7 linked regions of the Homo sapiens genome follow. The protein of the gene in region 7 purifies or fractionates together with the protein of the main gene of each other region. This does not show direct contact. Each region holds a gene or a part of one and is shown on either strand. Other genes may lie near its edges.

The links.
Region 1: the proteins of ZRSR2 (region 7) and TRPM3 purify together in Homo sapiens (affinity purification with mass spectrometry; 3 studies listed by BioGRID and IntAct, with this or other methods). This does not show direct contact.
Region 2: the proteins of ZRSR2 (region 7) and TTC33 purify together in Homo sapiens (affinity purification with mass spectrometry; 3 studies listed by BioGRID and IntAct, with this or other methods). This does not show direct contact.
Region 3: the proteins of ZRSR2 (region 7) and SF3A1 purify together in Homo sapiens (affinity purification with mass spectrometry; 3 studies listed by BioGRID and IntAct, with this or other methods). This does not show direct contact.
Region 4: the proteins of ZRSR2 (region 7) and SF3A3 purify together in Homo sapiens (affinity purification with mass spectrometry; 3 studies listed by BioGRID and IntAct, with this or other methods). This does not show direct contact.
Region 5: the proteins of ZRSR2 (region 7) and SLC4A1AP purify together in Homo sapiens (affinity purification with mass spectrometry; 3 studies listed by BioGRID and IntAct, with this or other methods). This does not show direct contact.
Region 6: the proteins of ZRSR2 (region 7) and ZMAT5 purify together in Homo sapiens (affinity purification with mass spectrometry; 3 studies listed by BioGRID and IntAct, with this or other methods). This does not show direct contact.

What each region holds. Positions count from the first base shown.
Region 1 is NC_000009.12:70,551,414-70,555,670, forward strand, and holds part of TRPM3 (transient receptor potential cation channel subfamily M member 3), read right to left. Parts: intron 1,898-4,257; coding exon 1,747-1,897; intron 1,631-1,746; coding exon 1,431-1,630; intron 1-1,430. UniProt on the Homo sapiens protein: Constitutively active, non-selective divalent cation-conducting channel that is permeable to Ca(2+), Mn(2+), and Mg(2+), with a high permeability for Ca(2+).
Region 2 is NC_000005.10:40,724,577-40,728,833, reverse strand, and holds part of TTC33 (tetratricopeptide repeat protein 33), read left to right. Parts: intron 1-357; coding exon 358-489; intron 490-4,257.
Region 3 is NC_000022.11:30,343,129-30,347,385, forward strand, and holds part of SF3A1 (splicing factor 3A subunit 1), read right to left. Parts: intron 3,392-4,257; coding exon 3,184-3,391; intron 2,063-3,183; coding exon 1,805-2,062; intron 1-1,804. UniProt on the Homo sapiens protein: Component of the 17S U2 SnRNP complex of the spliceosome, a large ribonucleoprotein complex that removes introns from transcribed pre-mRNAs.
Region 4 is NC_000001.11:37,965,789-37,970,045, forward strand, and holds part of SF3A3 (splicing factor 3A subunit 3), read right to left. Parts: intron 3,948-4,257; coding exon 3,783-3,947; intron 3,677-3,782; coding exon 3,566-3,676; intron 2,347-3,565; coding exon 2,256-2,346; intron 1-2,255. UniProt on the Homo sapiens protein: Component of the 17S U2 SnRNP complex of the spliceosome, a large ribonucleoprotein complex that removes introns from transcribed pre-mRNAs.
Region 5 is NC_000002.12:27,690,849-27,695,105, reverse strand, and holds the end of SLC4A1AP (kanadaptin), read right to left. Parts: intron 1,422-4,257; coding exon 1,352-1,421; intron 473-1,351; coding exon 423-472; 3' UTR 137-422; downstream 1-136.
Region 6 is NC_000022.11:29,739,318-29,743,574, forward strand, and holds part of ZMAT5 (zinc finger matrin-type protein 5), read right to left. Parts: intron 3,164-4,257; coding exon 3,101-3,163; intron 1,414-3,100; coding exon 1,333-1,413; intron 1-1,332.
Region 7 is NC_000023.11:15,803,371-15,807,627, forward strand, and holds part of ZRSR2 (U2 small nuclear ribonucleoprotein auxiliary factor 35 kDa subunit-related protein 2), read left to right. Parts: intron 1-317; coding exon 318-426; intron 427-740; coding exon 741-827; intron 828-4,257. UniProt on the Homo sapiens protein: Pre-mRNA-binding protein required for splicing of both U2- and U12-type introns. Selectively interacts with the 3'-splice site of U2- and U12-type pre-mRNAs and promotes different steps in U2 and U12 intron splicing.

The sequences.
Region 1 (4,257 bases), on a different chromosome or scaffold from region 7:
TCGTTGCTACCATTGGTGATAACGACAAGAAAACCCTGAACAGCAACTGCATGGAGCTGGCTCCCATCTAGCCCAATGTCTGGCTTATTCAGGTTCTCTGGCCTTCTTTGAGGGGGTGGGCACTGGAAAGGAAATGGATCTCTGGACCATCCTACTTCCTGCATTGTATTTACAAACACCACCTTCCTAAGCTCTCTGGATAAGTGAGGTTCCTCTTCTACCACAAATGACTCATGCTGTATTGTAAATTATTTTGGGACTCTGAGCTAGCCCTCAGCATGTTATCCACTGCAGGCTATCATTCATTAGAGCATCCCGCTGCCCCTGATTTTGTATCCCATGCTCCTCCACATTGGCTAGAGTTCCTGAGTCGAGAAGCTTAGGGTTTATTTCATAGGTCATCCACCCCGACCCCTCCAACTTTTCTCTTTGCTTAAATTTGTGTTTCAGATGGAAGCAGTGAATTCTGGAATTCCCAGGTCTCTCTAATGTAAATGTCTAGAAAGAAGTTGGGCATTGCAAGGTCAGGGAGGGTGTTAAGAGCTTCAGATTTAGAGAAGCTGTTGACCAAATCGTTTTGGTTTCAAACCTTAGATATACTGGTGACCACACAGAGGGAAGTAGACTCCTGGGCTATAATCCCAGAGGCTCTTGTTCAGTAGATTTGATGTAGGTGGCCTGTTTGACACACTTTGAGAAACCATAGGAGCTTGCTGGTATGGGATTGGATTCCCAGTGGTTCTTAATGGAGCGTGGTACCCAAAGGGTATTTAGGAATCTGTGGGAGTCACCAGTATTTAATGTGTGGAGGCTGGATATGCCAAACCTCCTGCAGTGTGTGGCACAATCCTACACAACAAGGAATTGTTCTGCCTCAATGCTAATAGAACCTCCTTTTAGAAACACTGGGCTGGAAGGTGGATGGTGAAGGGTCTTCTGTTTTGTCCTCCGAGTAACAGAAAGCTGGGCTGGTCTTCTCATGAGGCAATCTAGGCACAACCCCTAAGGTTTAGGAAAATGTTTAAGATCAGAAAAAATTATAGGTCCAGAAGTTATTGCTTAAATTATATATAATGTAGCCTTGGGTGGCATATTAATATCATTGATGTATTTTGGGTTGAGATCTCTGGAAAGCAAGAAACTTAGAACTTATGAAGGTTCTAAAATAGCCCTGCTGGAGACTGATTGTATCTCTCTAAGAAAGACATGAGGCTAAGAGTGCTCAATTTCAGCCTCTACCATCTTCTTTCTGACATTATTTCTCATTCAAGTCAACTCCCTCATCCCCCAATGCTCTCCAAGCCTTCAGAGCTGTCTGCAGCCTGCAAGAGGTAGGAGGAACTAGGTGGGCATGCGATTCTGCGTGATTGCCTATAGGAAGTGGTAGGGATTTCTGATTTGTGGCAGCTCGGCTGTCGCTTGAAGCTTACTCAGGCCGTAGTCCCTTTCATCCGGGTCGCTCTCGTGTTTCCTCCATCGGCAGCACAGGTGCTGGAATATCATGGTCATGTGGCTGAAGATGATCAGTGGTGGGGGCAGAACTGGCCTTTCATGGAAAGTCATGATGAGCTGATACCTCTGAAACTTCCAGACTTGGTTGGATATCGATTTTACTTCAAAAAATGTATTGCTAAAATAGAGACCAAAGAGAATCAAGTGAGAAAAACCCACTGTTTTCTGAAGCATCGACTCCCCTTCACCCCTGCTGTCCTCATCCATCCCACGTGCTCCAAAGGACCCACTTACTTAAAGACAGCAATGAGGAGGTTGACCAGCAAGATGTTTGCCACTAAGAGGTAGCAGGCCATGATGGCCGGCACGATCCAAGCTCCTGTCTTGCAGGGAGGCAGCTGGATTATTTTACCATCCTCTCGGGTCTCATTCTGTCCACAGGGAGCTGGAGGGAGCAACACACACAAGAAATGAGAAACTGGCTATTTGAGTTAGAAAAAAAATAAAAAGATGGATTTGTAGGAGGGTTTTAGATGGAAGAAATATATAGCCATCTCAAACAGAAAAAAGTTCCAAACAAGCCAAAATTGAAAAATGAGAGCTTCATGAATATCTCAAGGGGCTGCTACTGTGGTGGTGGGGGGCCTCGGTTCCACAGTCTCCCCAAGTTATCACCTGACCAGAAGAGGGGGGTGGAGCCACCTTCTTGCTCACACTGCCGCTAGGCCCCTACACCGGGTGAGGGGCACTTGGTGCTCTTCTGAAGCCTGATTGAGAACTTTTCTTGGGTGTGCCCAGGGAGAAGAAAGTCCCACCACTGGCAAGTTACTTTCAAAATGTGCTGTAGAGGCTGTCAGCCTGACAGCTGTAAGAGCAGCAGCATCTCGGGACTATTGATCGGGAATTAACAACAGGGCAGCTGTTAATTGCTGCAAGAAACAACCTGGGAGCTCCAGCTAACGATTTGCTGTCTCAGTACAGAAGGAACAACACAGGGCAGTGCCTTGGGAAGTATTTAGAGGGCTTGTTGCTCTCTGCTCCTGATGGATGGGATTTCATTAGGAGGGCAATGAGGGGTGATCGGCCGTGATCATGGAGCTCATAGCCACACCTGTTCTTCCAGCAGCATTTCCATTCCAAAAGTGTGCTTTTCAGGGCACAGGAAACAAAACCTAACTGCAGTGGATAAATGGGCAAATGGGGGGAAAAAAAAAGCCTGGAGGTGGGGGTGAGGAGGAAGGTGATATGTGGGATTGGCTGTGTGTGAGTAATGTGCTAATGAGGCCTGCTTGGAATTTCCGGGTAAATGCAAGAAAGAAAAAAATCCCTGACAAAGCTTCTTAGTGCTGCACAGACAATGTGGCTCAGGAAGCCAGATGATGCCGTGAGGTGCCAGGCATGGGTGAGGTAGCCCTCCTCTCCAGCCCCCTATAATGGCTTTAGAACAAGGCTCTTTACATCTACCTGTAAAAGGTGGTTGGGGGGAGTGGGAGGAGCACCAAGAGGTCTCAGCAGTTGCCACAGGCTGCTTTGATGATCGGCCAGGAAGATTTGAAAAGTTGACCCAGAATCTACTCGGCTGGAGTACTTGGCAAGAGGCGTCCATTCCTTTCTCAAGAGTTTCCGTTGCTAGGCTGCACATTCTACAGTGATTCTCAACCCTGGCTGCCCTGGGGATCACCTGGCGAGCTCTAAAAAATACCAATGCCCAGCTTGGCTCCAGACAATTGAATCAGAATCCCTGAGGGTGCCCCAGGCATCAGCATTTCTTTTAAAACTTTCTAGGTAATTCTCAATTGCCATGAAAGTTGAGCCCACTGAGCTAGAATTAGGCTGGAAAAATTATGTAATTTTTGACATGCTCTGAGGCCCAAAATGCATCTTCTCAGCCTATGAGGATTTTAATAACATTAGGACACCAAGACCTGGTTTTTATGGCTAAGAAAAGAGGACCAAAGTGCTTCCTTTAGTTCTGCCTGCCAAGATGACTGGATGCAGAATCAGGCATTTTTGAGGAGCAAGAATCTTTTTTTTATTATTGCAGTTGTGGCACTAAACACCCAAGACAGCCCTGTAAGAGGTCCTGATCATTTCCACCCTTAGAAGGAAAACTCAGCAATGAAGGCCCCCTGGCTTCAGCATGAAGTCAAACTCTGAGAGTGCCTGGCCCTGGGCCGTGTCTTGCCACCTCCCACCTCTCCCTCTGAGCACAAACTGGACTGAGTTTCCTGCAGTTCCTAGAAATGCCATGCGCTCTCTTACTTCCTGATTTTGAGCCATGCTGCTGCTTGGCTTCTAAAAGACCCCTCTGCTACCTTGCTCCCATTCCCATGCTTCACCTGGGTGCATCCTGCTCACTCTTTAGTGCTCACCTGGCTTTCCAAAGCCCACCCAGCTCCCTTGCTGCCCCATCCAGTAAGGACTTGGGTAGGTATCTTCCTTACAATCCCAGAGCACCCTCTGCCTGCCCTTTTGGGGGTCTCTCACACTGTGTCACCATTGCCAGTTTATTCGTCTGTATTCCACACAAGATTCCTGGTGGAAGGTTGCTCCTCAAGATTTCCCATCATCTGGCTCAGTGCATACACATAGCACATCCACATGCACCTGTACAGGACGAATGTTGCATAAATACAGGAGATCATGGGGACACAATCTTGTTGGACACTAATAGACATTTCCCACACCTCCGCAGGCCTACTTGTGATGCATAGTCCTAGCTCTGAGGGGTCATTAGCTCCTTTCTTAGGTTCTTTCCAGAAATCCTGCCCTCAGCTTGGCAAGGAATCTTCTTACACTCAACCA
Region 2 (4,257 bases), on a different chromosome or scaffold from region 7:
TAATGGCAATACCTGGGGTTCCCTGAAAACCACATTGTAAATAGAATAAATGGAAGTGGAATTGGGAGTTCAAAATACCTCTGAGCCACCATAGTTAGGATATGACCACTTGGTTTTGACCAGATGGACATAAGATTCAATAACTGGAAAGGGAATCGTTTACATTTTCATAGTTATATAAGGGGTGAAAAGAGAACTATAATTTCTTACCCTGAATGGCAGAGTAAGGGGTAAAAATCACCGAAATGCTATTTTTACTGGACTAAAAATATATCTTAAAAAATGAAAAGGGTTTTTTATGTAGTTGCTAGTTTATGAATATTACTGACAGATTTTTTGGTCTTTTTTTGCCTATAGGTGCTAATGTCTCTTCATGAAATGTTCCCAGCAGTACATGCAGCAGAAATGGCCGTCCAGCAAAATCCACATTCATGGGAGTCTTGGCAGACTTTGGGACGTGCTCAACTTGGTTTAGGAGAGATAATCCTGGTGAGGAAGTCAGATTATTATAATGCAGAAATTTTAAGTATATTTTGACTTTTTTTTTTTTTTGAGATGGAGTCTTGATGTCACCCAGGGTACAGTGCAGTGGTGCAATCTCAGCTCACGGCAACCTCCGCCTCCTGGGTTCAAGCGATTCTCCTGTCTCAGCCTCCTGTGTAGCTGGGACTATAGGCATGCGCCACCATGCCTGGCTAATGTTTTTGTATTTTTAGTAGAGACGGGGTGTCACCATGTTAGTCAGGCTGGTCTTTAACTTTTGACCTCAAATGATTCTCCAGCCTCGGCCTCCCAAAGTGCTGGGATTACAGGCGTGAGCCAACATGCCCAGTCTATTTTGACATATTTTTGATTAACTGAACCCAAAAGTGAATAGCCGTTTATCAAGTCTATACAAAAAACAATTAGCAAATTACTTCTTAAAGGTATTAATCCATAAACACAGTTCACAGGTATTACTGAACATCTTTTTTATTATAGACACTAATTATATCATGATCAGAATATTTTTCAGTTACTTGACATCATGGATATTAAAAAAAATTTAACATAAAACATTGGCATTTGGTAAACCTTATTTAAATAGACAATAGGCAACTTTTTGGCTTAGTTCTTTGGATCATTACATTTACCACATTATAAAGTGGTATTAGTATCACTGTGGAGACAAAACCGCTGATAGATTATACAGGGGAAGGAAGACAGTAGAATATGGGAGGGTAATGGTGATGAACATTTAGACTGAAAAGTTGTTAGGCTTATTGAGGGGATAAAGAGGAAGAGTAGAAATGTGTGCAAATGAAATACTCATTGTGTAATGTTTACCGTAAACTGGTACCTAATGCATCTCTCAATTTGTCTGGACTATACCTTGTTAGTAGCAGAGGCTATCTAGGTAAGAATTAGCTGTGACAGCTGTCCTGTTGTTTTTCTTTTGGCAGGGCTATATACACCTGATAGCTAACGAAATTTAACTTCCTAACAAGTGTTTGCAAATCTAATATACAGTGCCAAATTTCCTCCTTGTTATTAAGTAAATTAAGATTTTAAAAATGGTTTTATTTTTTACAGTTCAAAATAAAACATTTTAAAAGTTTCTTGCAAGACTAAAATTACTGATAAATTCAAAATATAAACTTACTAACAGTGGTTTTAGTAAATTGTGGATGACTGAGCTTTTTTTCTGGCATTCTTATAAATGTATCATTATTTCTACTTACCAAAAAAGGTGTTTGTCAAATTCTCAGAAATAGTAAGGAATTTGTATGAGAAAATAATTGATTTGATTAAAGTAAGTTAATGATAATCTAAATGAGATTCACAGTGATAGAAACCATTTTAACCAAGTACTGTTTTTTTCTTGCCATTTAGCACTGTCAACTTCTCTCTTTTTACATGAAGACTTAAATCATACCAGAGTTGGAAAAAAGAGTTCAAAGAATTTAGTTTTCTAACATTAACAGGGGAAGAAAACCCTATCATATAATACTTTTTCCTTGCCTCCCTTATTAAAAATTTATACATCACTATCTCTTTTGCCAATAGTGTCTATGGTAATGGAACAAATCTCTAGGACATAATATTTAGTAAAGATTGTCCTTTATAAAGAAAGAAAATACACTGCAGGTGAGACGGAGATACTTTGAATCATCCAATAAAAATAATTTAATATTTAAATTTTTTTGAATAAGAGTACCAGTTCGACTTTTTTTTTTTCTGTTGATATGGCTCTATTCATTAATACTGTGAAATTCTTAGAAGAATTGAAAGTATTTTTTTTTTGCCATTTAAATGTAATTTTTAGGAATCTTCTCTGTTTTTATGTAGATTTAAGCTGTTCTCTTAAAAGACTAGAATGGTAAAAAAAAAAGATGACTCAAAATGTCATAACGAAGGGACACTATGTAAAATATATTGAAAGCAAGCTAGAATTTCTAATATCTAACAATTCTTACTATATATACATATGGACTAAAACCATAGGAAATTATGTATGTAAATAGCACAGGCAGTAAATTAAAAGTCAGTAGTTGGGTATATCTCCATGAATAATTATTTAAACTTTGTAAGAGTTGGATGTGAACATTGGAAAATGTTTATAGGAGATATATATATATAAAATATGTATGTATATGGTATACATTTTATATATATATACGTGTGTGTGTGTGTATATATATATATATATAAAAGACTTTATGAGAATGAGATTTTAAGAAGTGGAAGGATGAGAGAATAAGAAAGCTGAAGCCAGGCGCGGTGGCTCAAGTCTGTAATCCCAGCACTTTGGGAGGCCGAGGCGGGCGGATCACAAGGTCAGGAGATTGAGACCATCCTGGCTAACACGGTGAAACCCCGTCTCTACTAAAAATACAAAAAATTAGCTGGACGTGGTGGCGGGCGCCTGTAGTCCCAGCTGCTCGGGAGGCTGAGGCAGGAGAATGGCGTGAACCTGGGAGGCGGAGCTTGCAGTGAGCTGAGATCGCGCCACTGCACTCCAGCCTGGGTGACAGAGCAAGACCTGTCTCAAAAAAAAAAAAAAAAAAAAGCTGAAGAGAATGGTTCTGGGAGTTAAAAATTCTGTATGAGGGAATGGGGATGGTGAGAAAGGAATACATAAGGGATTTATCCTGAAGAAGAAGGTAGAGAGGGAAGGAGACTGGGAAAGGTAATGAATACCAGGAGGTAACAGTATCAGGAAGGATTCTTCTGTTGGCTTTCCAGGGTTCTCAGCCTTCAGTGCTGGAACTAGCTTTGTGGCTTCCCTTCTTCGGGCTCTGTGTAATTCATTGCCAGCTTTTGCTTTTCTTCATGCCAATGTGCAATAAATACTAATTTTGTTTACTAATGTTTTCTCTGTTTTCCAAGTCTCATTTTAGCCATTGGTTTTAATATTTTGCATGAGCAAATCTTTAATTAGAAATTTCAGTTGCATCATTTGATTCTTTTTATTGTTTCGCTTTTGTAATGGTAGTAATGGGATGGACAAGTGATAATTTCCAGACAAAAGGAAGATGATTGAGAGTTTTTAAAATTTCACTTGAGGGGCTGGGCATCCTGGCTCACGCGTATAATCTCAGCACTTTGGGAGGCTGAGGCAGAAGGATTGCTTGAGGCCAGGAGTTTGGACCAACCTGGGTAGCATGGCAAGATCCTATATTTACAAAAAAAAAAAAAAAAAATTTGGCTGGGCATGGTGGCTCATGCCTGTAATCCCAGCATGTTGGGAGGCTGAGGTGGGTTGATCACCTGAGGTCAGGAGTTTTGAGACCAGCCTGGCCAACATGGTGAAACGTCGTCTCTACTAAAAATACAAAAATTAGCCAGGCATGGTGGTGTGTGCCTGTAGTTCCAGCTACTCAGGAGGCAGGAGAATATCTTGAACCTGGCAGGTGGAGGTTGCAGTGAGCTGAGATCGCACCACTGCACTCCAGCATGAGTGACAGAGTGAGACTCCATCTCAAAAAAAAAAAAAAAAATCCACTTGTAAATTTTTAGTTTAGTTAATTACTGTAGACATTGTTTGAGTCAAGCTGCATTATCTTTTTTATAATTGAATAGTACAAATTCTTGAATTATAGTCTTTATAAATGTTGTATGTTGACACTTAAGAATTGAGTTTTTTTCTTGAAAAATAAAGTTTGTTTATGAGCTTTATTATTGTTCTGTTTTTTTTTGTTTGTTTGTTTTTTGTTTTTTTGAGATGGAGTCTCGCTCTGTTCCCCAGGCTGGAGTGCACTGGTGTGATCTCGGCTC
Region 3 (4,257 bases), on a different chromosome or scaffold from region 7:
AGCAGGAAAGCATGCAAAGCACTAGCCGATTACCCAGAACACGGTCAGTATGAGACGGCTGCTTTCATGACACTGACCTGCTCTCATCCTTTCAAAAACACTACGCAGGTCCCCCCTGACTATCCTATTCAGAACCGCAGCGTACTTGCCCCACCTCCCTCTATTTCTGCTCCCTGCTTTCTCTCTGTAGTATTTAGCACCATGTAACAGACACTGACAATGCACTTGACTCCTCCTCACTAGACTAGAAACTCCATGAAGACAGGGATTTCTCTTTTGTTCACGATTACATCTCCAGCCCCCTGAATAATGTCTGACAATGTATACTTACTGAGAGAACAAATGCTGCCTTTGTTCTAAACAGCCCCAACAGCTTCTACTGCCACTGGCAAAGTGGCTCGGCCCTATCCCAATCCTCCTTCCACCTCTACCCCAAGAATCTATCTGCTCAGTCTTCCATGGCTAGAACAGACAGCAGGAACCTCAAGTTACAGTGGTAAATGCCAATACCCAAGTTCTGAAGAAAAAACAGGAAAGTAACAGAATAAAAAGTGATCTGGGACCTTTAACCCTGGAAGCAGTCCACTGGGAGAAATTAATCCAGGGTTCATTTAAAATTGATATTGCATATTTATAGAAACCCTTGGGCCTTGGGCCTTGAATGACTGTTATTTTAGCTACCATACTAGCTTCTGGATTTGGTCATTTTCTAAACACACACATTGTTAAAATTCTAATTATGTACTTAAAAGTGAGTAGAGTTAGGAAATTCTCAAGTCCTTTCAAGTCAGATCTTTGAGGTGTTGTTTCTGGATATGAAGAAGAGATGTACAGACCATCCCACTGTAAAGGGAAGGAAAACAACCTCCATGACATGTGTAGCAAGAAAAATGTGCCACAGGCAAAGCTGTCAGTGCACTTTGCAATAAATTAATAATCTGATTATTTTAAATGCCAGAACTGACTTGTCCTGATTCTTGATTGCAGCTCTGTCAAATGATAATTGAGTTCTTAGGGTCTGGAGTAAAAATGCCAGAGCTCAAGCCCCAGCCCTGCCACCTCCTAGCTATGTGACCCTGGCCATGCTAACTTCACTGCACCTCAATTTTCTCTTCTGTAAAGTGAACATAGCAATAGTGGCTACCTTATAGGCTACCGGAGATTAAATGAGAAGATGCTGCATACATAATTTCTTAGTGATGTTAGTTATACTGACTTACATGACATCAAAGTGTCTCTCAACACCTATTTAAATGCTGTTTCCAATTTAAGGCACTTTATAAGCTGAAGAACCAAAGTTTTAGGGTCAAATGTGGTTTAAATCTCAGCATAGTACTTACTAGCTGACAGACCTTGAGTACGTGACTTCACCTTTCTGAGCCTGTTTCTGCTTCTCAAACATGGGGGGAAAACACCTCATGGCTTCTTGTGAGGACTAAGTTAGGTAAAAGGAGGCAACTCTTAAAGGTTGGCTTCTTCTCAGGGCCTTACTAGGCAACTGAAAACGGAAATGCACTTAAAAGCAGCAAGCACCACGTGGCCTTGTCACATAGCAGGCAATCGCCTAATGGTAGTTAGCAAGCATGTATTTCCCTTCTCTTTAGAAACCGGCAGTCTGTGTTGCACTTAAAGAAATAACTGAATAGAAATCAAGGTTTTACATTAAACTGGGATTCAAAACATTTGCTCAGAGGCCCCATGGAGAAGCGATGTCCTTGTAGACAGTGAGTGGACACAGTGCTTCCAAGCATAAGATGTTTTCCTTTCCTGGGCCCAGGACCCCAGCCCCATCCTGCCCAGGCACCTTGGTGTACTGTTCCACTAGCTTCGTGAAGTAGTTGAAGAGGCTGTGCTGTGGGCGGAGAAAGTCAAACTGGTAGTTGCGCTGCTCTTTCTGCATCAGCTGGGTCAGAAACTGGCGCCCATTCCTGGCCACAAACTGAGCCGTCAGCTTCACCACATCCAAGTCGAAGGCTGAGATAGAGGGAGGATCAGCAATGAACTCAAACTCAGGAGGAGGCTCTTTGGGCACGATGGTCTCTTGGATTACTTGGGCTTGGACCTAAGATGCAAAGGGAGTATGAGGCGAGAGGCACAGGGGTGAACAGGCTCCAGGGGAGGGGAGGGGAGGGGACATGGGCATGCACCCCTCAGCAGGATGCTGTGAACCTCTAGACTTCTGTTAATTATGCACACACCACTAGCACTTGGTGTGAGAGAATTCTAAATCACAAGAGCATTGACTTCCCAGCCAACTATGGCCTCAACTTCCTGAATGGCTGAGTGAGAACCATTCCCCTCTGTATCTCTGCTCCTGCCTTGAAATTGAGGGCCAAAACTGGGTGACAGAAGATCCAACAAGAATAGGACTTATTAAATCCCATCCAAGAGGGATGGATGTGCAGAAGGCCTACATGTGTGCAGAAAACCCCACTGTACAAAGTGTTTCCATGACCTCCGCATGAACGATGAGGTAGCACAGGTACTGTGAATCCTCTTTACAGATGAAGAAACTGAGGTAGCCTGAGGTCCTAGGCCTCATTGCAACGCAAGGTCTTAGAACCTGACTTCAACCTTTATAGCCCACTGCAAAAGGAGGGACTGCCTTTTCCACCATGGTTCAGGAGTGCAGAAGGCAGGTCTGGACAGGAGGAAAAACATGTCAGCCTCTCTCTTCATTCATAATCCTAATAGTCCCTAGTGCTGGGCCTCAGCACAGGGAAGGTGGTATCAGGGGAGGCCAGGATGGAGGGGTCCTGGGAAGAAGAGATAGAAGGGAAGGGATGGCACAAGGAGGAGCCCACAGGCCACACTGCATCCTTCAGCACAGCCAAGTAGGAAGTGCTGCCCTCACATCACGGCACTGCCCTCACACCCTGAGCAAGGCCTTGAATAAATCACACGTCCCCCAACTCTCAGGTTCCTCATACAGCCTCTGTGAGGAGTCAATGAGACAAGACTCCTGAAGTACCAAGCACAGAGCTTGACAAGCAGTGCTCGGGAAATGCCAACTAACATCAGTACTTTGCTGTCTGGGCCTCGGTCTGCCTCTGAGAGATGGGGATAACGACCTCACTTCTCTCCCTGGGTGGTTGTGAGATTTGGAGTTAATTGTGTACTCCCTCCCTATCCCTGTTTCCCTCTCAAGCCCTGCGTAAGTGAAGGGGGCACTGGGCTCCAAACCTTCTGGGGCAGCTGCTGCTGGGTGGTCTGCTGCTGCTGCTGCATGACCTTGGGGATGGCGGCGGACGGCTCCTGAGCCTTCCCTTCCTTGAACTCGCTGACCTTGTGGCGGTAGTAGGCATGGTAAGGGTCATTGGGGTTCAGAAAGTTGAACTTGGGGTTGTTGATCTCGTTCTGTCGGATCCTAGCTTCAAATTCAGGCCCGTTTCTGGAGGAAGAAAAAACAACAAGAATAAACACCACTCCCTTGTGCCTGCTGTGATCTAGAACACTGCCCATTGGAACGTCCTTCTTGCCACCACCCACTGCTCAAACCAGCCCATCCCTCAGCAGACGTCCTCCTCTAGCTTCCTGGCATTGGCGATCAGTGCCATCTGCCTCATTCAGCTTGAACCAGGCCACCTCTGCCACAGGGTTTCCCTGAACCCAGTCATTCCTTAGCTCCTTTTCCAGTTCTGCCATTTCCAAAACCATCTAGGCTATCGCTCATTTCTTTTAATAAAATTTACTTTAAAAAAAATCTATTTAAGATGGAGAATACATATTACTACTTCAAATAAAAAAAAATCAGTATGCCTTTACCAACAAAAGGTAGTCAAAAGTGAACATAATGAAAACAAAGTAATACTGTCAAAGTTTAGCTGGAAGTTTGCTGAGACTAATTCTCTTAGTTCAAAGGGGTAGCAAGTGCTGGAGAGGTGTAAAAGGTACATGAGCACCAAACCTAGACTTTGTCCTCTGAGTAACAAGAAAGACTGAAAGACATGAAAATTTAGTTGATTTGAGCCTGGGCAACAAGAAAAGACCCTAACTCTACAAAAAAATATAAAAATAAATTAACTGGGCATGGTGGTGTGTGCCTCTAGTCCCAGCTACTCAGGAGGCTGAGGTGGGAGGATCACTTGTGCCCAGGAGTCTGAGGCTGCAGTGGGCTAGAATCGTGTCACCGTATTCCAGCCTGGAAAACAGAGCAAGACCCTGTCTTTAAGAAACAAACAAACAAACAAAAAACAAATAGTTGGTTTAACGCCTTGTCCAAGTACTCCCTAAAACCACCCCCATTATACTGGTGAG
Region 4 (4,257 bases), on a different chromosome or scaffold from region 7:
CATAACTGAGAGTAAAGTGCCTGTAATTTAACAGTGGGGGGTGGGATGGGGGGGTAAAATACCTTACTTCTGTCTAATCAGCCAACAGTGAAATGTGACATAGATCCACTGAAAAGAATATAAAAAGCCGGGATGGGCGCGGTGGCTAACGCCTGTAATCCCAGTACTTTGGGAAGCCAAGGCAGGTAGGTCACCTGAGATCAGGAGTTTGAGACCAGCCTGGCCAACATGCTAAAACCCCGTCTCTACTAAAAATACAAAAAAATTAGCCAGGCGTGGTGGCGAGCGCTTGTAATTCCAGCTACTCGGGAGGCTGAGGCAGGAGAATCGCTTGGAACCAGGAGGTGGAGGTTGCAGTGAGCTGAGATCACGCTACTGCACTCCAGCTTGGGTGACAGAGCAAGACTCTGTCTCAAAAAAATAAATAAATAAATTAATTAATTAAATTAAATTAAAAAAAAAGAAGAAAAGAAAAGGCTGCCATGAAAATGTTAATGGCAGAGAAAGCTACTACTGCTGGGAAAACAGGAAGCCTGGCGGTGGTCCTCTATGTGCTTCAGCAGCACATTCCCTGACATGCACTCCGCTTCACTTTCTTCAAGAGGTATTTTGCTGCTGTGTTTCTATAGCCTCTAACACAAGCTTACTGAGGGTACTTCTATATTTTCCTTTATATCAGTCATTATTTAACACATTAAAATCAATTCAGAAAACTATCCATACAACCATTCAATCAAAATCTTGCATAAAAGGGAGTTCACAGACCCAGGCTAAAAGCCCTGGTTTATACTCAGCACAGAGCTCTTCTCAAAGGAGAAACAATCAGTATTGCCGACTAATTCATTTCTCTTAAAAATGCAATAATTAGCTGGGCACGGTGGATCACGCCTGTAATCGCAGCACTTTGGGAGGCCGAGGTGGGCAGATCACCTGAGGTCAGGAGTTCAAGACCAGCCTGACCAACATGGAGAAACCCGTCTCTACTAAAAGTACAAAATTAGCCAGGCATGGTGGCGCATACTTGTAATCCCAGCTACTCGGGAGGCTGAGGCAGGAGAATCGCTTGAACCCAGGAGGCACAGGTTGCAGTGAGCCGAGATCGCACCATTGCACTCCAGCCTGGGCAATATGAGCGAAACTCCATCTCAAAAAAAAAAAAAAAAAAAAAAAAAATGCAATAATTAGGCGCGGTGGCTCACGCCTGTTATCCCAGCACTTTGGGAGGCCAACATGGGTGGATCACTTGAGGTCAGGAGTTCGTCACCTCAACCAGCCTGGCCAACATGATGAAAGCCCATCTCTACTAAAAATAGAAAAATTAGCTGGGCATGGTGGCACATGCCTGTAATCCCAGGTACTAGGGAGGCTGAGGCAGGAGAATTGCTTGAGCCCAGGAGACGGAGGTTGCAGGAGCCAAGATCGTGCCACTGCACTCCAGCCTGGTGACAGAGTGAGACTCGTCTCAGAAACAAAGGCTGGGCATGGTGGCTCACGCCTATAATCCCAGCACTTTGGGAGGCTGAAGTGGGCGGATCACCTGAGGTCGGGAGTTCAAGGCCATCCTGGCTCACACAGTGAAACCCCGTCTCTACTAAAAATACAAAAAATTAGCCAGGTGTGGCGGCTCATGCCTGTAATCCCAGCACTTTGGGAGGCCAAGGCGGGCGGATCATGAGGTCAGGAGATCAAGACCATCCTGGCTAACACTGTGAAACCCTGTCTCTACTAAAAACACAAAAAATTAGCCAAGTGTGGTGGCGGGCGCCTGTAGTCCCAGCTACCGGGAGGCTGAGGCAGGAGAATGGCATGAACCCAGGAGGTGGAACTTGCAGTGAGCCGAGATCATGCCACTGCACTCCAACCTGGGCGACAGAGTGAGACTCCGTCACAAAAAAAAAAAAAAAAAAAAAAAAAAAAAAAAATTAGCCAGGTGTGGTGGCACGTGCCTGTAGTCCCAGCTACTCGGTAGGCTGAGGCAGGAGAATCGCTTGCGCCCGGGAGGCAGAGGTTGCAGTGGGCCAAGACTGCACCATTACACTCCAGCCTGGCGACAGAGCGAGACTCCATCCATCTCAAAACAAAACAAAAAAACACAAAACAAAAAACAGAAATGCAATAATTATACAACTGTCCTAGATTTTACATATCCACAACCTACTGCCTTTAACCCTGGATACACAGGGTATTAGGATGCTGAATTGAAGGAGTAGAGCCATTTGTACTCGCCTAGGAGACAGTAAATAAATCTTACTTACAGGAGACAGCATCTTCAATCTGTGTCACATTAGCAAAGTGAGCAGTGTTTGGGATGCCCAAACACCTCATGCCATGAGCATGACGCCATTCCTGGGAGAAGAGAGAAGCAAAAGGATCATGTGAAATGGGAATAGCTGAACACAGAGCACTAACTCCATTCTACTCATAAATCCTAACATGGCCCTTTGCAAGACTCCACCTAAAGGTAGCATTCCTTTTGTGATTCATGTTTGTAAACAGCTGGCTGTGACTGACAAAAGGGTGGTATTTCAAAGCAGCACTGCATTGTTTGCCTCACTGGGTTGGCTTGTAAACCTAGATTCTAGACCCAGTAGTCTTATACATAAAACCTCTGGGTCAAGATCACAGAAAAACATCACAACTCTCACTACATCTCCCATATTGCAGGAGAACTTACCAAAGCCCCAGCAACTCCAAACACCTGCATGAATAGGGGTTACTAATGGCAGGTCAGCATCATCTTTGTAGGTAAAGGAGAAGACTTTTATTAGGCACAATGATGTGGTGAGGAGAGAGCAGGGAGATTATACACTGACATGATGGCAGTTTTAACTAAGGGATGGTAAATGGCATGGGCTTTATCCTGGATGCCAACTCCAATCATTGTAGGAGGTGCTGAGAAGGATTCAGAACTCACTCATGGGCTCAGCAAAAAAGACCCATTATCAATTAGTAATATGTATGACTCAGAGAGGGGGAGAGGAGTTCATATAAATTTGTCATCCTTGGTCTAGCATAAATGTTTTCCTTTCTGTAAAATTTCCTTCCAAAATCTAAGAACTCTAAGTAGAGCCCACTTAGAGGTGAGCCCACTTACAGCAGTATCATCCGGACAATACCCTGTCTCAAGAATGGCTTGATAAATATCAGCCCCTTCATTTTTTATTTTCTCAAGAGGCAAAGATCCATTTAAGATCTGAAAGAGATCAGTCAGCCCTATTTTTTATCTTGAGTATTAGCAATGGGGTAGAGAAATAACCAAGAAGTCAGAAATTGGTCTAAAATGCTAGCAGAAAGACAAAAACAGAGAAGTTTAAGAGCAGGCAAGAGAAAACCAAATAAGGTTCAAAGAGTGGTGCGGTAGAATTCCTCCAGAAACTATCTCAGGTATTTAAGACTAACATTGGTGCCAAAAGTCAAATGCCATGGGCTTGATTTTAAAACCATCCTTCTCTGATTCCCTTCAGCTCTGGACACCAGTGGTCCACATAGGCTGCTCCTACTCTTTTCTCTAAAAGTCTCATGTTTTTACTTCAATTCCCAGGAAAAATGGCTCTGAATTCCTTACAGCAAAGTGTCGCTGGAAGGCTTTGGGCCCTCGGTAGGTGTAGTTTCCACAAATCTCACAGTTGTAGTTGATATTTAGGCCATGAAGCTTATACAGCCAGTAGGGAATAGGCTAAAAAAGAAAAAAACAAAACAAAACCAAGAAGTGTTAGCCTACTAAACTCTGTATCTGTTTCCAAAATGGGGAATGGGGAGAAAGTGGTAGTGCTGAGACTTACTTTGCCATCCCAGCCAAGTGGCAGGTTTTTGGGGTTGTAAATGATCTCGTTCTCTTCATCTTCACTCTCACTCTCACTGATCTGCTCTTCTTCCTCTTCTTCTCGCTCTTCTCCTGTCCTGGCTTGCTTGCGCTGTACATTTTCATGAGTGAGATGTCGCTGTTCCTAAAGCAGGTCCATAAATGAAAAGTCAGAAAAAAGTAGTGCAGAATAAGAAGGGAAATTTCCTGTTTTCCTGTAACTTTTGCTGACCCCTTACTTCCAAGGATAAGGTTCTTTCTTACAGAATAAAGGAAAATCTTGCCTTCATATCAGAACTCCTTATCAGCAGGCTCTACCTGATCCCAAAGAAAAGAGTCAAAGGTTTTACATCACTTGCCTAATTACTCATCTGAGGCTATTATAGAACAACAGAAAACAGTCTCATCTATTCTGACTCTAAAATATTTCCTGGCTGGGTGTGGTGGCTCACGCC
Region 5 (4,257 bases), on a different chromosome or scaffold from region 7:
TGAGGTGGGAGGATTGCTTGAGCCCAGGAGTTCAAGGCTACAGTGAGCTAGGATTGCACCACTGTACCCCAGCCTAGGTGACAGAGTAAGACCCTGTCTCTTAAAAAAAATAAAATAAAATAAAATATTAGGAACATTTTTGCCTTCTTATTTTAATAGGATCATGTCTCTCACTTTACAAATTCTCAAAACATATGGTTCCCTTTTTACATACATATATAAACACTTTTAAACATAAATATCAAATGCATGAGAATCATATGGGCAGATAAATTTAGGAAGCCAAGAACACAGAACGAAAAGCCAGTCACCAGATCTTACAAATAATCATCTAAACTTCTCTGGCCATTCAATTTGATACATTATCCCAAATATTCCATGTCACATGGTCCACAAGGTTTTCTTTTGGGATTCTGAAGCAATCAATAGCCATACTTGTCATTAAGATGGGTTCTGCCATCTCCACTTTGACCTAGATCAGAATATAAAAAAAGAAATACATTATTTACTCTTCCAAAGTCAGGAGAGAAAAGATATCCAGATATCAGTAGGCCAAAAAGTAAAATAGACAAAAAGGTTTATTCTACGGTAGAAATTTTACTTTTTGTATGAAATTTCAAAATACAGCCCTCTTTCATTTCTACCCTAACATTTGTTAGCATAGAAAAAGCAGACATCTCAAGTAACTAAATTATATTAGTTACTAATATATTAGAAATCTCAAGCTGTGATGAACATATGAGGAAGTAAGTATCTCATACATTGCTTTAAGGGTGTGTGTATGAGCATAAAACTGGTACAATCTCTATAGAATGCAATTTATAATATCTTTAAAATGTTTATACCTTTGATCCAGCAGGTTAACTTTTATGATTTTTTTTCTATAGATGCTCCTCTCTACTTAGCATTTTATATATAAGTATCCATAAGAAACTAACAACAATTGGTTGTCTTGTGAGGAAAACAACCGAGTAGCTGAGGCACAGCCAGAATTGTTTTCCTTTCTTTTGACTTGGTAAAACCCAGATAACATTACACCTGTAAACACTTCCGTATATATTCCTAGAAGACAAGGACTTTTTCCAAAAAACATAACTCAACATCATTCACACTTTAAAAAAATAAAAAATAATTTCTTAGTATCATCAAATATCCAGGTAGTGTTCAAAATTATCTGACTGGCTAATAATTTTTTTAAACAGTTGTTTGTTTGAATAAGGATCCAAACATGGTATACAAATTATCACTACATACTCTTGTAACTTTCTTATGTTGAACCTTAAATCTATATTACCTATTCAAAAATATAAATAAATGAACCTTAGAGGAAAAAAAAGTAAAAACAATCTACCTTCAGGTGGGACCCACACACAGTAGTCTGGGTCATCTTCAGGATATTTGGAAGAAAGTGTTGGTGGAAGCTAAAAAGAAAAGATGGATTGTTTTATTCACAAGAATTTCTCTCCAGAAACCTTACAACTGCAGAAGGGATTGGGGTCCTATTGTTAGCCTCCTTAAGCAGAATAAACATTAGTCAAGAATTTTGTATCCAACAAAACTAAGTTTCATGAATGAAAGAGAAATAAAGTCTTTTTCAGACAAGCACATGCTGAGGGAATTTGTCACTACCAGACCAGACCTACAAGAAATGCAAAAAGGAGTTCTAAATCTTAAAACAAAAGGTTGGCATGCACCAGAATAGAACCTCTTGAAAGCATAAAACTCACAGGGCCTATAAAACAATAATGTAATGAAGGAAGAAAAGTATCTAGGTAACAATCAACATGATGACTGTAACAGTACCTCACATCTCAATATTAACATTCAATGTAAATGGTCTAAATACTCCACTCAAAAAAAAAAAAAAAATCACAGGCTGGGCGCAGTGGCTCACACCTGTAATCCCAGCACTTGGGGAGGCTGAGGTGGGTGGATCACCTGAGGTCAGGAATTCAAGACCAGTCTGGCTAACGTTGCAAAATCTCTACTAAAAATACAAAAATTAGCCAAGTGTGGTGGTGTGTGCCTGTAGTCCCAGCTACTCGGGAGGCTGAGGCAGGAGAATCACTTGAACCCGGGAGGCAGAGGTTACAGTGAGCTGAGATCACACCACTGCACTCCAGCCTGAGCTACAGAGCGAGATTCCGTCTCAATAAATAAATAAATAAATAAATAAATCGCAAACCAAATATCTGCCATCTTCAAGAGACTCACTTAACATGTGAGGCTTCTTATAGACTAAAGGTAAAGGAGTGGAAAAAGATATTCCATACAAATGGAAGCCAAATGCAAGCAGCAGTAGCTTTTCTTATATCAAATAAAATAGAATTTAAAGCAACAACACTGAAAAAAAGACAAAGAAGGCTATTATATAATTATAAAAGGATCAACCCAACAAGAAGATATTACAATCCTAAATATATATGCACCTAAAACTGGAGCTCCCAGATTCATAAAACAACTACTACCAGACCTAACAAAAGAGAAAGACAGCAACACAATGATAGTGGAAGACTTCACACTCCACTGACAACAGCAAACAGATCATCAAGGCAGAAAGTCAACAAACACTGGACCTATACTATACTCCAGAACAAATCAACTAACATATTTACAGAACATCTACTCCAGAACTGCAGAATATACAATCTTCTCATCAGTGCCTGAAATATTCTCCAAGATAGACCATATGATAGACCACAAAACAAATCTCAAATTTAAAAAAATTGAAATCATATCAAGTATCTTCTCAGACCACAGTCGAATAAAACTAGAAACCAACTTGAAAAGGAACCTTCAAAACTATACAAATACATGGAAATTAAACAATCTGCTTCTAAATGATTTTTGGGTTAACAATGAAATCACTGGAAATTTAAAAATTCTTCAAAATAAATAATAGTGACACAAGTTATCAAAACCTCTGGGATACAGCAAAAGCAGTGCTAAGAGGAAAAATTTATAGTGTTAAATGCCTACATCAAGAAGTCTTGAGCCAGGCATGGTGACTCACGCCTATAACCCCAGCACTTTGAAAGGCCAAGGCAGGAGGATTGCTTGAGCTCAGGAGTTCAAGACCAGCCTGGATAACATAGCAAGACCTCATCTCTATTTAAAAAAGAGAGAGAGAGAGAGAGAGAAAAGTCTGAAAGATCACAAATTGACAACCTAATGTCACACCTCAAGGAACTAGAGGAACAAGAACAGACCAAATGAGGCTGGGCGCGGTGGCTCATACCTATAATCCCAGCACTTTGAGAGGCTGGGGTGGGCAGATCGCTTGAGTCCAGGAGTTCAAGACGAGCCTGGTCAACATGGTGAAATCCTGCTTCTAACAAAAGTACAAAAATTAGCTGGGCGTGGTGACACACGCCTGTAATCCCAGCTATTCAGGAGAGCTGAGGCAGGAAAATTGCTTGAACCCGGGAGGCAGAGGTTGCAGTGAGCTGAGATCGCACCACTGCACTCCCTGGGCAACAGAATGAGACTCTGTCTCAAAAAAAAAAAAAAAAAGAACAGATTAAACCCAAAGCTAGCATAAAAGAAATAACAAAGATCAGAGCAGAACTAAATGAAATTGAAACAAAAGAAACTGCAAAAGATCAATGAAAAAAAAGGTGGTTTTTGAAAAGATAAACTAAATTCATAGATCATTAGCTAGATTAGACAAGAAAAGAAGATTCTATATTAGTTCAATTAGAAAGGAAAATGGAGACATTACAAGCAACACCACAGAAATACAAAAGATCCTTTGAGACTACTATGAACACCTCTATGCACACAAACTAGAACATCTAGTAGAAATGGATAAATTCCTGGAAACACACAACCCTCCTAGACTGAATCAGGAAGAAACAGAAATCCTGACCAAACCAATAAAAAGCAGTGAGATTGAGTCAGTAATTAAAAAATATTACCACCAACAAAAAAAAGCCCAGGACCAGAAGGATTCACAGTCAGATTCTACCAGACATTCAAGGAAGAATTGGTACCAATCTTACTGAAAGTATTCCAAAAGAATGAGAAAGAAGGAATCCTCCCTAACTCATTCTATGAAGCTAATATCGCCCTGATACAAAAACTAGGAAAGGACATAACAAAAAAAAAGAAAACTAGAGCCCAATATCCCTGGTGAACACAGACGCAAAAATCCTCAATGAAAGACTAGTAAACTGAATCCAACAGCATATCAGAAAAATAATACACCCTATTCAATACACCATGATCAAGTGGGTTTCATCCCAGGGATGCTGGGAT
Region 6 (4,257 bases), on a different chromosome or scaffold from region 7:
ATCATACACTTGACTAGCACTCACTCAGAGCCAGGCCCCAGTCTCTGGAGCTCACTCGGGGCCAGGCCTCGGTCTCTGGAGCTCACTCGGGGCCGGGCCCTGGTCTCTGGAGCTCACTTGGGGCCGGGCCCTGGGCTGTACAGGTGTCATCTTGCTTCATCCTTAGAGACATCACATTCGACAGGACACAGCCTCCAAGAGGTTAAGCCACGTACCAAGGTTACAGAGGACGTGGCAGAGCTGGGACTGTCAGAGCTGCCAGCTGGGACTCTGTTCCCAGCCTCCCTGGGCCTCTCCCCATTCCTGTCCCCGCTCGGCATCGTCTCCAGTTCCAGGCCCACTGCCCCGTGCTCGTCCCACCATGGGCCAGCCGTCCTCTGAGAGCCCATAGCCAGGGAAGAGCTGCAGCTGCCGCTGCTGCCAGGACTTGCTGGCCAGTCCCACAAGGCCTTGCTTCCACCCTGGGGAAAAATGCTCCTGGAAACCCTGTGTTGGTCCCGGGGCTGCAGCCACAGCACCACTGGCTCCCAGGGCAGGGCACGGAGCCTGCAGTGTCTAACTGGTCAGAGGGGAGTGAGGCCCGTAGGGGGATCAGGGCAAAGGCCAAGCTGCCCCAGACCTTCACTGGCTACCCTGAGGCCTCCTGGACAGAGAAGCTTAAGGGGGCAGGCACTGAGAGACCTGGAGTCTGCCCCCAACCTGCTGGGGGGCTCACGCGAGGCCTTTCAGTCTGAATGTTGGCCTTAGTTTCCCCACCTGTTCAGTGAGAGGCTGTGGAAGAAGATTGATAAACACCATCTCAGTCAGAACTTCCTTGTTCTCTAACTAGAGGAGTGAATTTCCCAAAGGCGAGATGTCAGTTTCCATGGAAGCTGAACTTGCCCCTCCCTGGAATCACCAGGCTGTGAGACTCCAGAGGGCAGGGAAGGTGCGTTCCTAAACTCCTTATCCCTAGACTGTCGTAAGGGGTCTGCTTGGTGCCAAGTGGGGACTGGGTATGCTGCCTGATTGAGGAAGGGATGGGGTGTACCCACCAATGACTGCTGGGCTGGCCACAGGGTCCAGGTGGGGCTGAGGTGCACCTTCAGGGCTCCCAGGCAGGAAGCCACACAGGCTCCACTGTAAGGGGACACAGGCCTGCCTTCTCCACTCATGCTGAAGCTGTTCCTAACACCTGGCCCAAACCGGGGGCTCAGGGCTCCGCATCACCCTGGGTGGCCCTTGGTTGCCAATGATGGGGAGATAGGGAGGCATAGGCCAGCTTCCCCGGTCTCAGAGCCCACATGCCCCAGCACCCCACTCCCGCTTAGCCCAGGGCATCCCGAGACGTACCCTCCACCTGGATGCTCAGCTCCTGCAGGTCTCGCTCTGACATGTGGGAAAATCTGCAGTTGGAGCCAAAGTCGCACTGGCCTGCAGCAGGAAGACAGAGTTACTCGCTGCTCGGGAGGGGCTCCCCACAGGGGCTGAGGGGTGCCCAGATGAGGGATCCCAGAATCTTAGGGGCAGGACTTCAGGGCCTAAAGAATAGCAACCCTGATCCGGGACAGAAAATGGAATCTCTCCGGCCCTGCCCATTCAGCAGCCAGAGCGACTTCTCACCTATCATGCCACATGCTCACGACCCTTCTCCAGCTGCCCCCCATGCTGGGGATCACTTCCAACTGAAGCCTGTCATGACTGGGCCTCGCAAGCCTCTGCAGGCTGTCTCTGTCACCAGCCCTCCCAGCCCTGCCTCGATGAACTACATATGGGTTCCTGAAAGGGCAATGCTTCCTTTCTCCACTCCAAGCCGCAGCACGTGCTATGCCCAGCCTAGTATTCTGCCTGCCTACCTGGCTCACGGGAGCAATTGGACTGCTCCTTAGAAAGGCTTCAGTGGCAGCTTTGCCAAAGAGGCACCAAAATCTGGGGTGGCTTCCCCTCTTTCAACCAAGGAGACCAAAATGTATGTCGAGATACTGGGAGGCTGGAGGTGTCTCAAGCCAGGATAACCTACCAGTGACATATTCACATCAAGGCAAAGTCTGTAGGGAAGCCCCTGATCTGCAGGCTTGGTGCCCATCCTAGGGGAGCTTGGACATTCACCCAGTTTCCCTAGTTCAGCTGCAGCACCTCTCCCCAGTGCTAAGCTCCCTTACAAACCATGTGAATCATCATAGTTTTCCTCTTTGCCATGGCTGCCAGGAAGCTCAGAGCCAAACCCTTAGAGAATACATAGGACCTCAAGGGCAAGCATGGAGGAGACTATTCTCTTGGTTTTATCTTATTTTTCCTACTCTTATTTGTATCTGTCTTTGGTTCCTTCACTTACTGAGGTTTTACCTCTTGCTCTGTCTTTTTTTAAAAGAGACAGGGTCCTCACTCTGTTGCCCAGGTGGGAGTGCAGTGGTGCAATCATAGCTCACTGCAGCCTTGAACTCCTGGGCTCAAGTGATCCTCCTGCCTCAACCTCCCTAGTAGCTGGGACTACCAGTGTGTGCTACCATGCCCAGCTAATTAAAAAAAATTTTTTTGGTAGAGATGGGGTCTCGCTATGTTGCCCAGGCTGGTCTCAAACTCCTGGCCTCAAGCATTCCTTCCACCTCAGCCTCCCAAAGTACTGGGATTACAAGAGTGAGGCACCATGCTCGGCCCTTTATCTCTCTGACCTATATGCATCTCTAGTAGCTGAGTACTGAGCAGTCAAATCTACACCTAGCATCCTTGGTTCTGATCCTGAACTTCCTCAGATCATCAACCCTGTTACTCTCTGAAGTTCTGCCTGCTGGGAAGGAGGCCAGGTTCCCAGGCTAACTTAATCAACAAGTCTATTCCACCCATAAGTGTCTCTTGGATTTACATGTAATCTCCCACGCCTTGCTTGTTCTAGGTGAGCTGATATAATCACATTCTAGATCTGAAGAGCTGAGGACCAGACTCTAGGAGGTCCTGAGACACACTTGGGAAGGCCCTGACTGGCCAGTCAGCTGGAGCCACTGCTGCAAAGTGGGCTTGGGATGGTGGCCCGGGTCGGGGAAGACACTCTGCAGAGGTCCAAGTGGGGCAGGCTGGATATCGCAGGTCCCCGCAGGGACCTGAGCTGTGCAGAGGACTTTACCTGTCAGTAGAAACTTCCTGCAGGGCCGCTTGTTCTGCTCATCCAGCAAGATGGCAGCTGCATCTGCGAGAGAAGAGAGGGACGGGATTCGGATGGTTCAGGCTCCACCAAAGGAGGCAGGAAGTGGAAGCCACAGGGGCATATGGACCCTTTATCTCGACACAGCTGTGCAGAAAGAAGAGTTTCCTGTTCCACGGAGGAGTGGAAGCAGGAGATGACCACAGGTGGGAGTCCTGGGCAGATGGATCCGAGCTGCAGGTGACCTCAATCCATCCCACCCCACGCAGGACGGGCCAAAGACAAGGACCAAGTTTCATGCCAGCAGTTCTCAACTTGGCACGAGGGAGTCAGCTGGAGAGTCTGGGGACTTTGGGTTTTTTTGTTTTTTAGAGACAGGGTCTCGCTCTGTCACCCAGGCTGGAGTGCAGTGGTGCAATCATGGCTCACTGCAGCCACTACCTCCTGGGCTCAAGTGATCCTTCTCCAGTCTCAGCCTCCCAACTAGGTGTGACTACAGCTGTGCACCACCATGCCCAGCTAATATTTTTTATCTTTTTGTAGAGCTGGTGTCTCATTATGTTGCCCAGGCTGGTCTTGAACTCCTGGGCTCACACGATCCTCCCATTTTGGCCTCCAAAAGTGCTAGGAATACAGGTGTGAGCCACTGGGCCCAGCCTGGAGGTATAATACTTTAAAAAAATCCTGGCACTATGGAACTTCTCATTATTATCTTTGCAACTTGCTGTGAATCTATAATTATTTCAAAATAAAATGCTAAAAATTTTTAAGTAAATCCTAGTGCCCAGGAAGCCCACCAGCCAATCCCAGGATCCAGGCACTGCTCCACAGGCAAGACTGCAATCCCTGGCCTCTGTCTCCCCTCCTTCCACCAGCTGTAGGGCACTCAGGGCCAGACCAGCCACCGCCGCGGACAGGACTTCCGACAATCACTCTGTAGCATCGGCAATCACTCTGATCCTAATCTTAACCCTAGTTTCCTCTGATTTTTCCTATTTTTCTTTTCTTTCTTTGAGACAAGTTCTCACTCTGTCACCCAGGCTGGAGTGCAGCGGCATGATCTCAGCTCCCTGCAGCCTCCACCTTCTGCACTCAGGTGATCCTTCCCCCTCAGCCTCCCGAGTAGCTGGGACTACAGG
Region 7 (4,257 bases):
CTAAACATCACTGTGATCAGTCTAGAGGGAAAGTCATAGTGTCCTTTTTTCTGTAAAGTATGTCACAGCCATATATACCTATGAAATGTAAGAGAGATTTTAAGTTATTACCCATTAGGAAGATAGTTGCTGACACGTGGTGCTTTTCCAAAAGCTCTGCTCTTCTCGTTCTCTTACACCCACTTGACTGCTTTAATAGAAAATAGCTTTCGTGATATTTGAATCAGTCCCAAAATGTGTCATTTTGCTCTCGTGTGTGTGTGTATTTGTGGATTAATGCCCATTTCTTTTATCTGATTACATCATTATACTGATAGGCAAAGATTACATGAGGAGTGGTTGCTAAGAGAGCAGAAGGCACAAGAAGAATTCAGAATAAAGAAGGAAAAGGAAGAGGCGGCTAAAAAACGGCAAGAAGAACAAGAGGTATGGTAGGAATCACGTAACTAGTGAACAAACTGATTACTTCACCATAATAACTCTCATGAAGAGTTGCCTATCTTGGGAGGTTGGAGTGAGCTGAGATCACGCCATTGCACTCCAGCCTGGGCAGCAAGAGCGGAACTCCATCTCAAAAAGAAAAAAAAAAAAGAGTTGCCTATCTTGAACTTAAAAAAAAAAAACAAAAAACTGATCTTATTCAGTTTGCCAGTGTTTTAAGTTTTTCATCTATGTGCGCTGTATGTGAAATGTTTTTAAAAAGTGACTGAAACAAAGTTACTTTTTCTTCCCCTTTAAAGAGAAAGTTAAAGGAACAATGGGAAGAACAGCAGAGGAAAGAGAGAGAAGAGGAGGAGCAGAAACGACAGGAGAAGAAAGAAAAAGAGGTGATTCCTGTCATGGGATGTGCTGTGTGATGAGTTTGAAGAATAATCAGTAGGCATGTCAGAGTTTGGGTTTTTTTTTTCTCTTTTTCTTGTCATTTCATTGTTTGTTTGGAAAGAATCATATTTCAGTTTAGACATAACACCAGAGTTCCCTTCTGATGCTCTTCTTCGGGTCCGTGCAGTGGCAGATTCCTTAAAGTTTTCTTCAGCTTTACCCTATTTACCCTTTATACTGGGCATTGGCAAATGTTGTAAAGGGCCAGATGGTAAATATTTTAGGCTTTATGGTTTGGTCTCTGTGGCAAACATCCAACTCTGCCAGTGTACCCTGAAAGCAGCCATCGATAATATGTAGATGAATGGGTATGGCTGTGTTCCAGGAAAGCTTTATTTACAAAACAGGCAGCTAGCCCTTGCTTTATAGCAAGTTATGTTCTTCTGAGGTTCTGCTGTATATGAGTTGACTTCTTTAGAGAATAATACTTTGTTTTGTTTCCACATTTATTTAGGTCATAAGAGAACTGCTTATGACATGTCAGCAAGAATTAGAGGATTTAAAGAAATCAGGAACTCAAATATTGAGGAACTAGGAAACAGTTTTTGTTATTTGTATTAAATCTTGACTTCCTCTTCCACTTAGGCTATGAAGATAATTGTAGCTAACACACAGTTGCTTATTTAAAAAAAAAAAAAAATCTGTGAGGCATATGTGTGTATGTATCTTCTCTATCTTCCAGGATTCTTTTTTAAGGATTGATTTGGTATGTTTTGCTGCTATTCCTTGACAGTATATTTATTTCAGAGGTATCACAGCTCATCTTCCCTTGACTGATTCATCAGGATTTGTCTTTTTTGTAATACAGCTAAATTTAAATAGCATAAAATTGGATAATCACCTTATAATTGGGAAAAATGCATGTGTCTTCATTGTAGTCAATATGGGGCAGAAGCAGCCTCCACGATCTTTGTTTTTTGTATCTTAGGCCATCAGTTAATTTCAGTGCAGATTTTAAACACCTTTATTTGAGCACTTCTTTCCAGATGAGGCAAGTTCATGCTAGGTTTTTAGGGGGCAGAAAAATTGTTTGGAACTTGTCATTTTTTTATAGAGAGGAATTAATTCCCATTTTAACAGTAGAGTGTTCCTCAACTGAGGTCTTTCAGGAATTCAGTAACAGCTAAGGCCTCTTTTGAATGCTTTTGTTTCAGAGGAAATCTGTGAGACTTCAAGGAGAAATGAGGGAAATGAAATAGATTCTAAGCTTATAAAAAAGAATCAGCAGTATGTGTTCCTGCTGTATGCTAGACACTTCGCTAGCGGACAGAGACAGAGCAGTGAAAGACACAGTCTTTGCTCTCATTGAGCTAGTTTTTTATATGGGAGTGTGAGATGATAAGCAAAACAGATCATTCAAAATGTGATCATATTAAGTGCTATAAAGAAATAAAGCAGGCCAGGCGTGGTGGCTCACGCCTGTAATCCCAGCACTTTGGGAGGCTGAGGCGAGAGGATCACGAGGTCAGGAGTTCGAGGCCAGCCTGGTCAACATGGTGAAACCCCGTCTGTACTAAAAATACAAAAAATTAGCCAGGCGTGGTGATGGGCGCCTGTAGTCCCAGCTACTCAGGAGTCTGAGGCAGAAGAATCACTTGAACCGGGAGGCAGAGGTTTCAGTGAGCCAAGCTTGAGCCACTGCACTCCAACCTGGGCAATAGAACTAGACTTCGTCTCAAAAAAAAAAAAAAAAAAAGAAAGAAATAAAGCAGAGTGATGTGATAGAGTAATGAGAATAGAGTTGTGCTTCTATAGATTGCCTGCTCAAGGAAATTTCTGAGGAGGTGATGTTTGAGCTGACACCTGAGTGGAGAGATCTCAGCAAGAAGAAGCCTGAAGCTTGAAGGCTGAAAAAAGGCCAGGGAACCTGAAATCTAGAGTCCAAAGGAGAGAAGGGCAGTGGAGGAGGTTGCTGAGGGAGAGGGGGCAGTGGAGGAGGTTGCTGAGGGAGAGGGGGCAGTGGAGGAGGTTGCTGAGGGAGAGGGGGCAGTGGAGGAGGTTGCTGAGGGAGAAGGGGCAGTGGAGGGTAAGCAGAGTCAGATCATGTAGGGCTTCCTGGATTTGAAGGAGGAGTTTGGATTTTATGTTTCCTATAATGGGAAGCCATTGAAGGGGTTTAAGCAGGGAATGACTCTGTCTCATTTATATCTGTACCTTTTAACAGATCATTCATTTAAAAAAAAAATTTTTTTGAGATGGAGTCTCATGCTGTCGCCCAGGCTGGAGTGCAGTGGCGTGATCTCTGCTTACTGCAACCTCTGCCTCCTGGGTTCAAGCAATTCATATGCCTCAGCCCCCCGAGTAGCTGGGATTACAGGTGCCTGCTACCACGCCCAGCTAATTTTTGTATTTTTAGTAGAGACAGGGTTTCACCATGTTGGCCAGGCTGGTCTCGAGCTCCTGACCTCCAGGGATCCACCCGCCTCGGCCTCCCAAAGTGCTCGTGTGAACCACTGCACCAGACTTTTTTAACAGATCATTTTTACTTTACTGAAACCTCTGCCTCCCGGGTTCAAGCGATTCTTCTGCCTCAGCCTCCTGAGTAGCTGGGACTACAGGCGCCCATCACCACACCCGGCTAATTTTTTGTGTTTTTAGTACAGACAGGGTTTCACCATGTTGACCAGAGGACAAGGAGAGAGAGAGGAATTCAAGTCATATTTTTAGGTTTTTAGTTTGAATAGACAGATAGACTGGCAACACTATTCACTGAGGGAGCATTCAGGTGGATGTGGGCCAGGGAGTGTAGAGGACAAGAGTTCTGTTTTGAGCACCACAAATAAGCAACTAGACATACGAGTCTTATGTAATGCTTTAAGGGGCTAGGGAAGATAAGACTGTCTGTTAAACATAGGTACAACTTGTTCAAATGCCAATTAGGTAGAAATTTACTGGCATATTGCAGAACCTCCTTTGCCTTATTAAAAAGTTAGAATTTTCTCCTAAATGCTAATTACCACTGGTCATGTCATATTTTAGCTTCTGCTAAATGTTTATGATTTCATCTAGCATTGTTTTTTGGGTTTTTTCGTTTGTTTGTTTGTTCGTTTTTTTTTAGACAGAGTCTTGCTCTGTCGCCTAGGCTGGAGTGCAGTGGCGTCATCTCGGCTCACTGCAACCTCTGCCTCCTGGGTTCAAGCGATTCTCCTGTCTCAGCCTCCCAAGTAGCTGGGATTACAGGCACGTGCCACCACACCTGGCTAATTTTTGTATTTTTAGTAGTGACGGGGTTTCACCGTCTTGGCCAGGCTGGTCTAGAACTCCTGACCTCAAGTGATCCACCCGCCTCAGCCTCCCAAAGTGCTAGGATTATAGGTGTGAGCCACCATGCCCGGCCTAGCATTGTGTTTTATATTCACTAATACCCCCTTTTAC